Homo sapiens: one gene and its partner. The protein of the gene in region 1 purifies or fractionates together with the protein of each later gene. This does not show direct contact. Each region holds a gene or a part of one and is shown on either strand. Other genes may lie near its edges.

Evidence for each region.
Region 2: the proteins of AKR1C3 (region 1) and ABAT fractionate together in Homo sapiens (co-fractionation; one large-scale study listed by BioGRID). This does not show direct contact.

What each region holds. Positions count from the first base shown.
Region 1 is NC_000010.11:5,100,914-5,104,413, forward strand, and holds part of AKR1C3 (aldo-keto reductase family 1 member C3), read left to right. Parts: intron 1-1,187; coding exon 1,188-1,297; intron 1,298-1,571; coding exon 1,572-1,737; intron 1,738-3,500. UniProt on the Homo sapiens protein: Cytosolic aldo-keto reductase that catalyzes the NADH and NADPH-dependent reduction of ketosteroids to hydroxysteroids.
Region 2 is NC_000016.10:8,779,117-8,782,616, reverse strand, and holds part of ABAT (4-aminobutyrate aminotransferase, mitochondrial isoform 1 precursor), read right to left. Parts: intron 3,139-3,500; coding exon 3,027-3,138; intron 1,368-3,026; coding exon of another isoform or gene 1,309-1,367; coding exon 1,187-1,308; 3' UTR 1-1,186. UniProt on the Homo sapiens protein: Catalyzes the conversion of gamma-aminobutyrate and L-beta-aminoisobutyrate to succinate semialdehyde and methylmalonate semialdehyde, respectively. Can also convert delta-aminovalerate and beta-alanine.

The DNA of each region.
Region 1 (3,500 bases):
ATAAATACATATAATATTTTCAAAATCTCTTTAAAATAAATTGGAAAGATGACAATTCACCTCTATAGACCTAAATAAAGTATGTCACAGAAATGAAGACATTCTTCCAGCTACAGTATAATTATTGTATCTAAGGAAACGAACTGCAATGCCCTCATGTCGTTTAACATCCAGTCTATATTTGAATTTCCCACTGTTTAATGGAAATGTCTTTTATAGTGCTCCCTTTTAAAACAGAATGGAAACAAGTTGTGAGCTGATCTGTTCTTTATAATCATAGGTTTCCCATTCAGCAATTACTTATAATCCACTGGGTGATAATTCCTAACAGAAGAAGTCATATTCCATGACAAATTTTCACATATGATTGTGTAAACATCACTAATACTTTTGTATTTAATGGTTATTTATTATTGTATTTATTATTTTTTGGAGTTTTTAGATAATCATTTTCAATTTTAAAACCTTATTTAACTATTCTTACGTGACATTTTACTATGAAAAAAAATCCTTCACCAAATCAAAATGAAGAACAAATATTCCTCAAAGACAAAGTTTAATACTTGCCTCTAAATATCAATTTCCTAAGAGATTACTATAATAACCACCAATGGTGGAGGCAAATTATTTTGTTCTTTCTTGCTCTCTGATTATCTCACTCATTACTCTGGACTTGGACATTTTTCCTTAAGATTTTTAATTAATTTTATTAATTTTTGTTAGTGCTCATTCTTACCCAATGGGTAGATTTTTTTCTTGATGCTGAAATCTATCCAAACATCACCAGTGACATTTCTTTGAAAGTAGTGCTTTTGTCTTTCAGACTTGCACTCACGAGTCCTTGACCAAATTCTTGCTTTCTGGCACAATCTGAAGCCCAAAGGCTCTAAGAATCTTACTGTATCCCAGATATGGAACTTGTTACATCTCCTTCTAGTTGTCAAAGGTCTTTGGAAGCCAGGATCTGATTCATAGATGAGCTTCTGTTCAGAAATGGCATTTCCATTTATACTTTTAGAAGATATATAAAATTTATTTCTATGAAAAAGGTTATTACTTGACAATAATATCCTCAGCTCAAATATAATGCTATACTGATTATTATTCAGCTTCCTTACTTTCATCTTTTCAATATTAACATAACTATTTCATATAAATTGATGCTTCTCTCTTTTGGTCAACTGCAGGTAGAATGTCATCCGTATTTCAACCGGAGTAAATTGCTAGATTTCTGCAAGTCGAAAGATATTGTTCTGGTTGCCTATAGTGCTCTGGGATCTCAACGAGACAAACGATGGTAATAAAAACAATGGGACCTTTACATAAACCTTCATTTTGCAGAAAATTTTTTAGTCAGAGCATCCTCAGTTTCCTGTAGTTAAGTTTCAAGTGGCTCATGGAGAGGAAAGAGAATTGCATTTCTGACGAGATCTTGGATGATGCTGATGGTGATGCTCGGGGGCCTCGCTTGAGAAGCTCCGGTGCAGAGTGGATGCCTTAGTCTGTTTAGGGAGCCGCCTAACAAACTATCGCCAGCCTCAGGGCCTCAGCCTTTCTGCCTTTCCTTCCAGGGTGGACCCGAACTCCCCGGTGCTCTTGGAGGACCCAGTCCTTTGTGCCTTGGCAAAAAAGCACAAGCGAACCCCAGCCCTGATTGCCCTGCGCTACCAGCTGCAGCGTGGGGTTGTGGTCCTGGCCAAGAGCTACAATGAGCAGCGCATCAGACAGAACGTGCAGGTGAGGAGCGGGGCTGTGGGCCTCAGGTCTCCTGCACAGTGTCCTTCACACGTGTGCTTCTTGTAAGGCTCTCAGGACAGCCTTGGGCCAGCTCCATTTCCCTGTATTTCCCATATGAATGCTTTGCGTGCATCCTGAGGGTTTCTTCTACTCTACCACGGGAGAGGCAGCACAGGTGCAGAGAATTAAGATGGGACCAAAAATGGAGATTTTTTTATTTCAGCATTAAGTTGACAATCTACTCTGCATCCCTGCACCAGGAACATCATTTTTTCATGTTGTTTGTTTGGTTTTGGTTTTTTTTTTTTGAGACAGAGTCTCATTCTGTCTCCCAGATGGGATGATTCTCCTGCCTCAGCCTCCTGAGTAGCTGGGATTACAGGTGCCTACCACCAAGCCCGGCTAATTTTTGTAATTTTTAATAGAGAAGGTATTTCACCATGTTGGCCAGGCTAGTTCCAAACTCCTGACCTCAGGCAACCCACCTGCTGTGGCCTCCCAAAGTGGTACTACAGGTGTGAGCCACCGCTCCTGGCCTCCTCTTCATCTTCAGAAATGTGGAGTAGCATTAGGTGTTCTTTAGTCTACCAGTCATTGTGGATTTTTCATTTCCATTTCTTCGTACGCTCAGTTAAAATTTCACATATTTATTCACTTGGAGTTTTCTGTTTGTGTACTGCCTGTTTAAGTCTTTCTTTGACTCTTAGTTGCTTGTCTTTTTTTTAAGTATAGGAGACCATAATTATACTATTAAATAGAGCTGTTAAACAAATCACCCTCAACATAGGGGTTTAAGATGAAAACCACTGATTTACTCAGGATTCTCTAGTTAGAAAATTAGCATGGCCTCAGCCTGAACTTAGTCAAGTTCTGTTCTTGGCTGGGCTCTCTCATGTGTTTGCAGGACAACGAGATAGCTCTGCTTCAAGATGTCAATGGGACATTTGTCTGGGTGCCATTTTCTCCTCCATATAGTTCATCCTGCAGCCATCCAGCCCAGACTTCACCTCAGCACATGGCATGACCCCAAGGCAGTGAGTGGACACATGCAAAGCCTTTTCATGTCTAGGCTCAGGGCTGCCACGCCATTGCTTCTGGCAAATATTACCCACATTACAGGACAGGCCAGACTCAAGGGATGGGTAAACAGACACCACCACTTATTGGAAAGAGCTAGAAATTCATATAACCAAGCAAGTGGATACAGGGACATGTGAGTGTTGGAGGAAGTGTTTCTTATTAATCTATGATGGATTAATATATGATAGGTTAATATATATGATAGATTGATATATATATTATAGTTTAATAAGATATATGAGATAGATTACACATACATACATATATATATTCTGGGTATTAATCGTTTAGAGATTTAGATGTATTATTGAAGTACCACCTCCCAAATTGCATATGTGCTGTGGTTTTCTCTGTAGTTATGTATTCATGAACAAAAGTTGCTACTTTTCATGTAGTTAAATTATTCATGCCTCTTTCCTGTGGTTGATGAGTGGCATGTCTTTTCTTATATTGGGAACATGACAATCTTTTAATATGTTATCTTGCAAAATTGGTAATTCTCTTTACTTATAAATTAGTTGTAAATTCAAATGAATTTCTTTTTCAATACTAAGTAAAATAAAAACCCAAATATGCACATGGAATTTCTAAATTGATATCAAAAGGTGCCACCAACAATTATTGAAAAGCATTCACATTTGCTCACATATCTTGATTTTTTACTCTACCATAAATGAAACATT
Region 2 (3,500 bases), on another chromosome or scaffold:
CTCAGTCATCTCAGGAAAATCTCTCATTTCAGGAGGATCAAGTACAAGGAAACCACGTTGAACCAACAGGCCACTTTTCCATGCATGGAGCTCTGGCACCTTTAATTCATGGTGCTTCCCTCCAGAAGAAATCCAGTCCAGCAATGATTCCCTCTGCTCTGGTGGAACAGCCAAGCTGTTCCTGGGGGTCAGCTCACAAGTGGTGTGAAGGTGGATGAGCAAAAGAGAGGAAGAGCCTCTTAGGGCGAGGGAGCCAAAAGTCAGACCTCAAGTTGCCCTGGGAAACATGATGCGATGGCTCTGCTGCCCCAGACCCTGGGCTTTTCCTCCTGGGGTGACGGGCCTGTGCTTCTAGCCCTGTGGCTCACGTGTGTCCCTGTGGACACTCAGGCTACAGTTTCCTCCCACCCAGGTCCAGGTCTAGGTTGACATTTAACAGGGAGGAGGGAGTTTGGGGAATGGAGGATGCCGAGTAAGAATCACGGGTAAGGCCACCTGGGGATCCTCCAAGGGCAAAGCCCTGTCCAGGGCAGAATTCACAGTTTAGGGGGATCCCCAGGTGCACTGAGAGGGGTGATTCTCATCTTCAGGGGGCCAGAGGACCTCTTCCCTTACTCCTGAGCTGAATCCTCCTGTCCCCATTTTACGGCCTTCCTCAGATCTGTCCAGTCCCTCCTGCACCATGCGTGGGGCGTGCTCAGAGCTCCGGGAGGCTGGGAGAGGAGGTGAGAGTGTGTTTGCTTGCATAGGGCGAGGGGGAGCCAACATCCGTGATCACAGAATATGGCACTTGAGATGGACTGGCACCCAGGAGGCCCAGCTGCCAGTCCCAGGAACAAATGTAATGCCCTTGACTGGCTTTTGGAAAAATTGCTGGGGTTGGTCAAGGTTGGGCAGAACTCTAGCCAGGACCTCCCATGGCCCTTCCCAAGATGAGTCCAGGGCTCAAGCAGGATCTCTGGGCTTAAACCAATGTGCACCATTGGCTCTGCAGGGAGGAAAATCAACACCAGCCCTTCCCTCCCCTCCCCTCCCCCAAGACCACCAAAAATGCTCCCTCCCCACAAATCACCCTTCACTGTGCATTCACCTCTGATACTTTTAAGTGAAAACATGAATTAGGCAAACTAATCAATTTGACAACTGTTGGGATCCGGGCTTTCTCACTGTAGTGGAAATGGCTTCTTTACTTGAAGTCTGCTAAGATGTCACTGAAAATATTGAGGAACAGGTGAGCGTGGTGATCCCTGAAGACCAGCGTGGGACGGAAACGAATGGATTTGTCACCACAGCCACCCAACACCACACCTGAAAGAGGCAGGAGGTAGGTGAGGAGCGTGGTTTCTCAAAGTCACATGCTGGGAGAGCTGGGGGGAAAGTGATGCCTGTTGGCAACGCTCATCCATCCATCCATCCATCCATCCATCATCCTCCATCATGGAAGCCCGGGCTTCCTTCCTACCACCCACCCATCCAGTCTTCATTTCCTTTCTCTCTCCCCTCATTCATCTCCTCCATCATTCTCTTCTTCCTTTCCTTCCCTCCACACTTCCTTTTTCCCTTCCTCCCTCCCTCTCTCCTTTGAGTGCCTGCTTTGCTGCCCCAAGCTAGGTCTGGTGATAGAGAAATCCTGAGATAAAGTCCTTGCCTTCCACAAAGTCATGGAGGAGTGGGAAAAGAAAATAGGTAAGCAAATAAGTTGCAAAAGCACAGGCTGAGTCGGAAGCATGTGTGAGGTGCTGAGCTATTACGGAGGAGGGACAGGCTCTGCTTATTTTAAAGGGTGACTTCACAGTTACAGCTGGTGTCCTTTCCTTGTCGAGGTTGTTTATGCCTTTTTTTTTTTTTTTTTTAGAGATGGAGTCTCGCGCTGTCACCCAGGCTGGGGTGCAGTGGCAACCCAGTCTCACTCACTGCAACCTCCACCTCCCAGGTTCAAGCCATTCTCCTGCCTCAGTCTCCCAAGTAGCTGGGATCACAGGTGCCGCCACCACGGCCAGCTAATTTTTGTATTTTCAGTAGAGATGAGGTTTTGCCCCGTTGGCCAGGCTGGTCTCGAACTCCTGACTTCAGCTGATCTGCCCACGTCGGCCTCCCAAAGTGCTGGGATTACAGGCGTGAGCTACTGCACCCGGCCTGTTTATGCCTTTGAGACCACGTTTTCTCATTTTTAAAATGGAGGTTGATTATCCCTGCCCTTCTGAGGCTGCTGCAAGGATTCTGTAAGATGGCACAAGAAGAACTGACAATGTGCCTGACATAGAGTACGTGCTCTGATCTCACCACAGCGTCTGCCCTTACCCCTGCCACACATGTCCTCAGTGGCTTCCCACAGCTCCTAGGATGAAGTCTGGAGTGCTAAGCCTGATCTGCAGGCCCATGCGACCCGGGCCTGGCCTCTCCTCCCCCAGCTTCATCCCCTCCCAACCGTTCGCCTTCACGCCCCCTTCTTTCCCTTTTACCACCTCTGTAAGCTCCATCCCACCTCAGGCCATCGCATGCACCCTTCCCTCCGCCCAGAATGCTCTTCCTTACCTTCTTCACCCAGCCAATCCCTGTTTGTCAAGACTTAGGGTAAAATGCTACTTCCTCAAGGGAGCCTGCCCTGATTTCCTACCCTCACCAACTGCTGCAGCTATCTGCTCTCTTAGCTGCGTTTTCTCCTTCCCAGGACTTAAAATTGCAATGGATTGGTTGTGAAATGCCATGTGTAAAGCCATGCCTTCCTGCTACACTGCATGCTTCCTGAAGGAAGGGGCTCTGATGGTCTTCATCATCACTGTAACTGTCTCCAGTGTCCACTTACAACTCACCTCCTCAGCGAACGCTTGTTGAGTAAATAAATGGATAAAGAAATCCCATTTGTAATGTTCTCTTCTTTGGAGAAAGAGCATTCAGGCTCTTTTCAGACCTGTGTACCACCTGCCCCCCACACAAAATATTGCTGAGTACCTAGCAACATGTGGCAGCTACAGCAGGAGATACTGGATGCTCATGAAACTCAGCAGCCACTCCTGACCCCTTACCTTTGTTTCTGGCAATTAAAATGAGCTTATTCCGTATGGAATCATCGGGAGTATCGAAGGAGCAAAAGGTGCCTCGTCCTCTCACCCTGCTGATGAACTGGGGGTACCGGGCCTGTAGTGGGAGGAGACAAGGCTGGCGTCAAAGCCCATCACCTGTGTACCAGCTGGGCTTAATGGCTGTGCTTCGTCAAAGGCCTCCCATGGTCCAGCCTCGGCCTCTGCATGGACTGGCAGGACCTCCAGGGGGTTAAGAGCTCTGGGGACATTCAGGCCTGGGTTCAAAGCCCAGCTGTGCACATGTGTGTTGTGTGGAGGAAAAAAACCACCACCACCACCACCAGCAACAACAACCAAGCCCAGCTCTGTCCCTCTCACTGTATAACCTTGGGCCACTCAAGTGCCTCTGTTTACCCTGCTATAAACTGAAGGATTTAAATGCTGTTGACCCCACTGGGGCCGTGGTGAGACTTTAGC